3 separate regions of the Homo sapiens genome follow, and all the other regions are linked to region 3. Evidence: fine-mapped expression QTL. A gene starts in region 3. Each other region holds a variant in brackets. All regions are shown on one strand. Distances are from middle to middle.

Region 1 (2,672 bases), 100 kb before region 3:
GGATGGAGGGCGGGGCAGCTCGCACTTCTGCTTGTCTTCCCAGGACTTCAGGGTGCTCTCAAATGCCTATGGACCCGAAAGCCCAATTACACCTGCTGCTCTGAAGCATGCATCTGACTGCGACAGACACTATGGGGATGCCAACGAGATCACAACTAGAAAGAGACAAATAGGACTTTTTTTTTTTTTTAACATTAGGGGAAGGAGATGGTCCTAGAAATTACTGCCCTATTAGCTTAATCATTGTGTCTTAAAAAAAAAAAAAATCCTAGAACAAAACACAAAAAGCTCCAGCTCTTAACAGTGCACACAAGAGCCCACAGGTGAGCCCTGTACCCCACCCAGGTACCGCGGGCAGCCGCTCTTACCCTGTCTCTGGTCAGTGTCTGTGCCCGGTTCTTGTGGACAATCCGAATGTACCCTGGCGGCTGGACCCAGGCCTCTCCGTCCACCTGCACAGGCACGCCCTCATCCCCAAGGATGGAGATCTTCACCGTGCGACACTGAGCAGACATCATAGCCATTACTCATGCTGAGCCAAAACCCCCAGGGGTTTAAAAGTGCTATCAGCACCACCATGACCTTCCTGCTCCACACACCCGTCCCTGCCTTGCAGGACACCCCACCTCTGCCTCTGGGATGGCGCTCCGCCTGCAGCTAGCCTTCTGCTGTTGTGTCACTCAACCGAGGGTCTGTTCTCCCACTGTCCCGCCCCATCCCGCCCCATCCCCTCACTGAGCAGTCAGTGCAGGAGACCTTGGTGCTGAGACAACAGGTGTCAGAACCCAGGGGCAGGGGTGTTGTAGCTCCCAGAAGCCACTGGGCCCCTGCCACGTGAAAACACCCCTAGAAAAGAGCAGATGGCACAGTGGATGACGATGAGCCATCCATCATCATCCCGTTCCTCCTTTTCAACAACAAACATTGCCAAAGAGTGAAAATTGTGAACTTCAAGCAGCCTACAGCTAAGGGTAGACAGAGTGCTGGAAGACACCAGACAGTCGCAGGGTGGGGTTCAGCCAGTGGGTGTCATCAGCACCCTCCCCCGCCCCAGTGCCTGTGCCT[G/A]GGTACAGAGTCCTGCCCCATCCTCACAGAAAGACTGCCCTCAGCCCATCGCTGCTGTCAGAAATAAGCCATGGGGGCACCCCCAGCCCTTCACCACTCGGCCTCAGAACCATGATCGAGGGCCCCAGCTGGAAATCCTCCCACACCCCACATCAGAGCCATGGGCTCCGTCCCCACTGCGGCTTTGACAGCTGCAGACACGGGCAGAGTCCAGCCTGGGTCTGCTCTATCTCATCCCACCTCAGAGGGGACAGGCAAGGCTGTGGTTCAAGCAGGATACACATTTTGAAAGAGTTATCTTGGCCGGGTGCAGTGGCTCACACCTGTAATCCCAACACTTTGGGAGGCCAAGGTGGGTGGATCATTTGAGGTCAGGAGTTCGAGACCAGCCTGGCCAACATGGTGAAGTACAAAAATTAGCTGGGAATGGTGGTGGGCACTTGTAGTCCCAGCTACTCGGAAGGCTGAGGCGGGAGAATCACTTGAACCAGGGAGGTGGAGGTTGCAGCAAGCCGAGATTGCACCACTGCACTCCAGCCTGGGCAACAGAGCAAGACTCTGTCTCAAAAAAAAAAAAAAAAATTAAAAAGAGTTATCTTGAGAATTTAACTGTCAAGCATAGCACAAGGAAAGGGCTCTGGCCCAGGAAGTGGGGCCACGAGCTGTCCAGGACAGGACATGAGGCAGCCACATGGCCCTGGAAAGCGCCCACCCTCCCAGGCTCCATGCACTGCCCCAGAATTTAGCACACTCCGGGCTGGGGACTCGGCCAGACACCCCAGGACCATGGCCACTACCTGGGCGATCCGATGATGCTGTAGCCTGATGACTCGAGAGACGGCCATCTGCATGCTGCCGAACACGGCGACCACCTCCAGAATCTTGTCATCGAATGATGGAGCTGCGAAAGTCTGCAAGGGACACGTTAGAGCTGACCACCACTCCACACATCCCCGAGCACAGGCCGCCCCTACCCTCACTCCCTCCCTCTGGGGGTCAGCCCCTCCTAGCTGGCGAGAAGTTACCAGGTAACTGCACTCCTGACGGGCTTCATGTTGCAGGCCCTGAAACCAGCTGCCTGGGACCAAATCCCAGCTCTCATCTCGGCAAAGTTACTGAATCTCTCTCTCCCCCATTTCCTCATGCGTAAAATGGGGAAACTAACGGCACGCTCCTCCAGGGCCATCAGTAGGGCCAAGTGAGTTAACGCTGCAGAGTGCCAGGACTGGGGCCAGCACACACCACGTGTGCAGGAAGCGCTGAATACTTCTATTCGCTATTACGTACAAAGGAAGGTTTAAACCAGGTTTAAACCTATCAACACCTTCCCACAGTTCTTAACACAAATTCCAAACTTCTTCCCCAGCTCACACAGCCCAGTGTGACCCAGGCCCTGCAGCCCTCTCCTGTCTCTCCACGCCCCTGCTGCCCACTGCAGTCGGGGCACCTCTCTCCCATCCTCCATGTGCCTGCCCTGTCTTGACTCTGAGCCTTCATCTGTGCAATTCTCTCTGCCTGGAACAGCCTCCCCCTCTCCTCTGCCCACCTAACTTAGCCAACTCCAACTCATCCTTCAGGTCTTGGCCTCCCAGACACCTTCCCTGACC
Region 2 (2,672 bases), 120 kb before region 3:
AACAGTGTTGTTCTAATCACTGACAACATATTAATTTTAAACACTTTTGATCCAAACCCAACTCCTTGCCAGGAGTAGGACACTGAGGACTTGGGGTGGCCCTGATGTCCTTGAAGCCACAGTCAGCTGTTTATCCTCCTCATGTCCCCTCCCCACCCAAGTTCCAGCTTGCCTGGGGCTTGTTCTGGGACCCTAAGAACCCCAGGATGCCCACATCGCCAGGCCAGCAGGGCCAATGGTCATGCAGGGACTGCGGGACAGGTTCCCATCATCTCCTGTGTTAGCCCATTCCACCTGGGAAACCAAGCGACTGCCGTGGCTGGCTTATTTCTCCCTCTGCCAACCCCCATCTACAATGTTCTGGGGAAAACAATGAGAGGTGGAAAAGGTAACATACAACCACCTTCCACCCACATCACTTCCAGTGAGGCAGCTAAGTCCACCAACAGAGCGTGGGAGAGTCTTTCATCCAAAAATCCCAACACGTCGCATGCAGCGACAGGAGGCTGTGCTGGGGAAACCCAAGGCCTGGCTCAGCCTCCATACTCTAAGGGCCTCGGGCCAGAACGACCACGAGAGGGGAGCACCCAAAGGCACGCAGAGGGGCCCACCTGGGTGCACTGCAGAGGGGACAGAGGGGCTGTGAGTGGGAGGTGGGCCAGTGCTGTTCACTGCCGCCTGCTCAGGACCAGGGGCTGCTGCAGACCCAGCCCGGTCTATGCCCACCCCCGCAGGTGCAGCCCAGCTTCTGCACATCAGATGGAGTGACGCTGACTAAAGGACCTGGACAGCGCCGGCAGATACTCCCAACACTGTCCTTCTCTTTGGGAGCCAAAGAGAAGCCACGGCAGATACTCCCAACACTGTCCTTCTCTTTGGGAGCCAAAGAGAAGCCACGGCCAGGCAGCCAGGCCAGAGCCATTTCCTCCTCACACCAGGGCAGGGGTTACAGAAACCTCTTCCCAAGACATTTACAAGCACCTCTGAGCCATGACTATCAACGGGAAAAAAGGGCAAAGTCAGTGCCCTGGAGGACCAGGGGCATCCTTCACCTGGGCACTGTCCCTACGGGGCACAGCCCTCTCCCCAGGCGAGCTCCCTGCCCTCTGGCACCATCATCTACTAGTTCAGAGCCAGGACAGAGGCAGGGCAGGGGCAGCGCGGACCACCAAATCAGAGTCCCTGCCAGCACCTCCAGCGACATCACGCCCAGCAGCAGGCGACAAGAAGCCACTGCAGGGGCAGACACTCAGGA[G/C]AGCCTCCGGCCTCCAGGCCACCGGACGGGCTGAAGAGGTCAAACCACCCCTGGCCCACCAGGGCCACGCTCCCTGGGAACCACAGAATGGGCAGAAAAAGTTTCCCAGAGCCAGGAAGCATTTCCCACACAGAAACACTCATGTGGACACACATCCTCTGTCTGCAGGGATGCAGCTGGCAAGCTGTCTCACTCACACCCCAAGCTGAACTCGCCTAGAGCGTCCGGAGACAGAAGGGCAGGCGTCCCCAGCCCACAGTGGGGGGAGGGAGGAGCGGGAGGAGAGAGGATGGAGGAGGGAGGAGCACAGGCCCTGTGACACCCAGGGAGGGGCTCCCCGCCTGGGAAACAGCACCCGCTGCCTTGGCTCACGCAGGAGGAATTTTTTTTTCTCTTCACGTCAAATTACAATCAACAAGACTGGAAACATCCATGCTACTTTCAAACCAGGAAAGAGCACGATTTTTGTTCAACAAAAGCTGCATCAACAAACAGGGGCCCTTGCAGGCTGCTGTGCTGGGCCCCAGCCACGTTTCTGAGAACTGGCTGGGGGCCAGGAGGCGGAGCCACACGGTGCGGCCACAGAAGGACACACGGAGAGGAGCCCCCGGGACAATCCAAGCACGAGGCCAGGCAAGCAGTGCCCAGGAGGCCAGACGCCGCTGGATTCCCTGGCCCACAGCACAGGCGGGCGAGAGCTGAGTGGCCGTGACACATGTGCCCCAGGTGACTCTGAGCTGGAGAAAGTGTTGTTTCAAAGGTAGCTGTGTTGTTATGTTCGAGACCCCAGAGCTCTGGTGGACGGTGTCACGGAGGCTTTCTGTAGCTGACAGAGGAAGTAGCACCATGAGAAGGGGGCGGGCTGCAGCATCTGCCCAGGGCCTCAGTGGCAGGAGGCGCAGAGGCCACAGGCTGAGAGGGCGGAGGCTAGGCCTCGGCGGCGGGGATGTGGAGGCCACAGGCTGAGAGGACAGAGGCTAGGCCTCGACGGCGGGGGCGCTGCGGCTCAGCTCCTTGATGCCACACAGGATCCTCTTCATGTGGCCCACCTTGGTCACGCCCAGGTCCTGCAACAGAGAAGACACCGCCATGGATGCCGAGAAGACAGCCAGGGCCAGAGGGCTCCACAGCAGGCCTGCCACAACGGCCCTTCCCATTCGGCTTGTGAACACAAATGAGAGCCAAAATGACAAAAACGGTAAAACAAGATGGAAACAGCTTAAAAGTAACAACCATACAGATGCCTGGCCCATTGTTCCTGCATTCTAGTCACTACCATCAGCAAGGACAAATCCAAGACAAAGACAAAACACAGGCCTAAAAGCAAGTGGATGACAAGTGACCTCATGAGAGCCACTGTCCAGGACACCCACAGTGGCCTTTTGCCCTCTCGGGACTCAGCCAGTGATTCAACACC
Region 3 (2,672 bases):
CCCCCATCGCAGGTATCAAAGGCTGACAGAAGAGAAGGCTCCCACGGTGAAGGGAACGGCTGAACCTAATCCGCCCCGGAGGAAAAGCGCACTGCAGCAGGAGGAGAAAGTCCGTGCCAACCGGATCTGCCAGAGCTGCCCCAGGGACCCAGCCTGCTCGCAGCCACCTGTCCAGCCACCTGCCTGAGGAAGCAGTGTTCTAACCGGGCGGGCTCACCTGGAGCAAAAACCGTAAGCTGTTTTCAATAGGAAGCACAATGGGAAAACAAACGGTGCAACTTTCCTCCTGCAAAAAGGACGTGCGTCTTTATCTAACATTTAGCGTCAGGAGTTCTCCGTGGAGAGTTGGGTGCCAAGCGGGTGCGCGGTCCCGGCTTTGCTGAGAGAGACGGTCACTGAACGCGCATCCCTTCCTTCCCTTTTGGGATGAAGGGGTGAAGGGGTGATCCCTCGCACCCGGGTCCGAGCGGACTTCTGAGGGCACCACAGGGAAGTCTGCAGGGCACTCGCGGGACACCACCCGACCGCTCCTGAGAAACGTGCAGAACCGGGGTTTGGGGACCGCGGACGCCCGCGGGGCGCAGCCGGGAGCCCCCGCGTGGGACCCGCTCGGTGGCACGAGCGCAGTCCCCTGCATCTAGGCCTCAGTTTCCTCCGGGTCCTCGCGGCCCAACTCGGCGCGCGCCCCCCGCCCAGCGCGCGGCGCCCGGGGCGCCCACCTGCGCGCCCCCCGCCCGGCCCCACAGCCGCCCGCCGTCCGTCGGGGGCCGCGCGCTCCGCCCGGGGCGCCGGCCCGTTACAGCGGCGGGGCACGCTCGACAGGGGCGGTGACGCCCGCGGGACCCCGGGCCGGGCCGAGCCGGGCCTGGGCGGCCGCTCGGGCAGGGCCACGGGCCTCGGCCGGGGCTGCCGCGGCGTGAGGGGCGCGCGCCCGGGCCGCCGCGCCGCGGGCTCACCTTCTGTCGGATCTGACCCGACGTGGACACCTTGCGGATGAGCTTCTGTGGGGAGCCGGGCTCCGCCTCGGGCTCGCTGTCGGACGACTCCTCGGGCGGCGGCGGCGGAGGCGGTTGCGGGGGACCCGGCGGAGGGGCGCCCGCCGCCGCCGCCATGCTGCCGGGCCAGCGCGCGCACCGCGGGCGGGGGCGGGGCGGGGCCGGCGGGAGGGGCGGGGCCGAGGGCGGGCCGGGCCGGGGGCGGTGGGGGCGGCCTCCCGCCTCTCCCCGCCGCGCCCCCTGCCGGCCATGCGCGCAGCTGCAGACGGCGCCGCGCGGCCCCTCCCCGCCCCCACCTGAAGCGTCCCGGGCCCCCCGCCCACCTCTCCGGGCCGTGGCTTCTGTGTGTTATTTCTGGAACGCCGTTTGTGTTCTTGTTTCTATATTCACTTCTTAAAACATCTCTACTCTTCCGCATCAGAATGTAGGTAACCTCAGGCAGGCTGGGGCTGTGTCTGTCCTGCCCAGCCTTGTGTGGCCGAGTTTGGGGCGAGCTCGAATGCGCGCGCGCGTGCTGGAAAGAGACCCCGGTACTGGGACGGGCCTCGGGACGCCAGAGCTGGGATGCACCGCTCCATCTGGGAAGGCTTCCTGGAGAAAACGGTTCTTAAGGAGAGATGGAAAATGTGAGCAGGAGTTGTGACTAGAGAGGGAACCATGTTCTAGGCAGAGACCAGATTTGTGCAAAGGCCTGGAGGCAAGAAAGAACGAGTGTTGGGCGAAGACGGGGGAAGAAAGGGAAGCTGGTGCTTAGAGCAAGGAAAATGGCATTAAGATATGAGCCTCGGGGCGGGCAGGTCGAAGCGGGCTTTGGAAACCAGATAAGGGGATGGAAGGCAGCAGGAAGCCCTTGAGGGATTTAACCCTGGGCGGGGCTGGGTCACCACGCTGGGGCCTGTGATCCGGGCTTTGAAGTTATCAGGGCAGGTGGACGCCCTGGATTACCGAGGGGCTGAGAGATAGAGACGTGGACTGAGATCCAGGTGGGGAGTGACCAGCGACTGGAGGGAGACAGAGGTGACCAGAACGAGTCCCATGTTTCCCAGGGGGGCTGCTGGATGGTGGGCGGGTGGGGTCCAGCGCTGCTCTGGGCAGAAGAGGAGGAAGCGAAGCTGGAGATGAGATCAGCTAAGTTTTTGGTGCCATCCAGGTGGAGCAGGGCTTGGTGCCACCCAGAGGAAATGCTGTCCATCTGTCTGCCCTGCTCTGAGGGGCAAATCAGTAAGGGACTGCCCAGGTGTGCCCTCTCCCTGTCAAAGGGCTGCCGCTAGAGACCTCGCCTGCCAATAGGCATTCGCTGGCCGCGCCGCCCTGGGCAGTGACCTGGGGCTGCAGAGTGGCATCTGGCATGGGGACACGGCCAGGGGCATGGGCTCACGGCCAGGACAGAGGAGGACAAGGCCTAAGGCAGGAACAGTCCGGGACAGGCCGAAGGCCCCATGGTGCCCCAGGGTACTATAGCCACTAGCCACATGTGGCTACTTAAATTTCAATTAGTTAGAATTCAGCATTCCGTTCCTCAGCCACAGGAGCCACATTTCAGGGACTCAGTAGCCGCATGTGGCTTAGCAGCTGCCACGCTGGATAGCACAAATATAAAACACTTCCCCCGTCCCCCCAGAAAGTTCTGCAGCACAGTCGCATGCTGAACTGTGTCCTCCCGTAATTCATATGTTG

Which allele goes with the higher level. Positions count from the first base shown, and alleles are read on the strand shown. Sizes are in standard deviations (SD) of each study's normalised expression. Not every link is listed here.
In carriers of allele C in region 2, the expression in vagina of the gene that starts at base 1,137 in region 3 tends to be lower than with G alone (small effect, 0.28 SD a copy in GTEx).

Evidence for each region. PIP is the estimated chance that this variant, and not a neighbour inherited with it, causes the effect. A credible set is the group of variants that fine-mapping cannot tell apart.
Region 1: its variant is the best candidate, but not a certain one, in a credible set for the expression of DGKD in blood mononuclear cells (TOPMed, PIP 0.74).
Region 2: its variant is the best candidate, but not a certain one, in a credible set for the expression of DGKD in vagina (GTEx, PIP 0.70).

Annotation. Positions count from the first base shown.
Region 1 is chr2:233,457,588-233,460,259 of GRCh38, reverse strand. It overlaps DGKD (diacylglycerol kinase delta), which reads right to left. Exons shown (of 30, transcript NM_152879.3): 22 at 1,863-1,976; 23 at 369-503; 24 at 1-66. Among named protein-coding and RNA genes, the nearest start is that of DGKD, 100 kb to the right of the region's middle. The variant G/A (reference allele first, on the strand shown) is at 1,066.
Region 2 is chr2:233,469,021-233,471,692 of GRCh38, reverse strand. It overlaps DGKD (diacylglycerol kinase delta), which reads right to left. Exons shown (of 30, transcript NM_152879.3): 30 at 1-2,322. The coding sequence ends at 2,233. Among named protein-coding and RNA genes, the nearest start is that of USP40, 96 kb to the left of the region's middle. The variant G/C (reference allele first, on the strand shown) is at 1,256.
Region 3 is chr2:233,352,959-233,355,630 of GRCh38, reverse strand. DGKD (diacylglycerol kinase delta) reads right to left here and starts at 1,137. Exons shown (of 30, transcript NM_152879.3): 1 at 957-1,137. The coding sequence starts at 1,112. RefSeq lists a silencer at 948-1,187 and enhancers at 1,438-1,487, 1,628-1,687.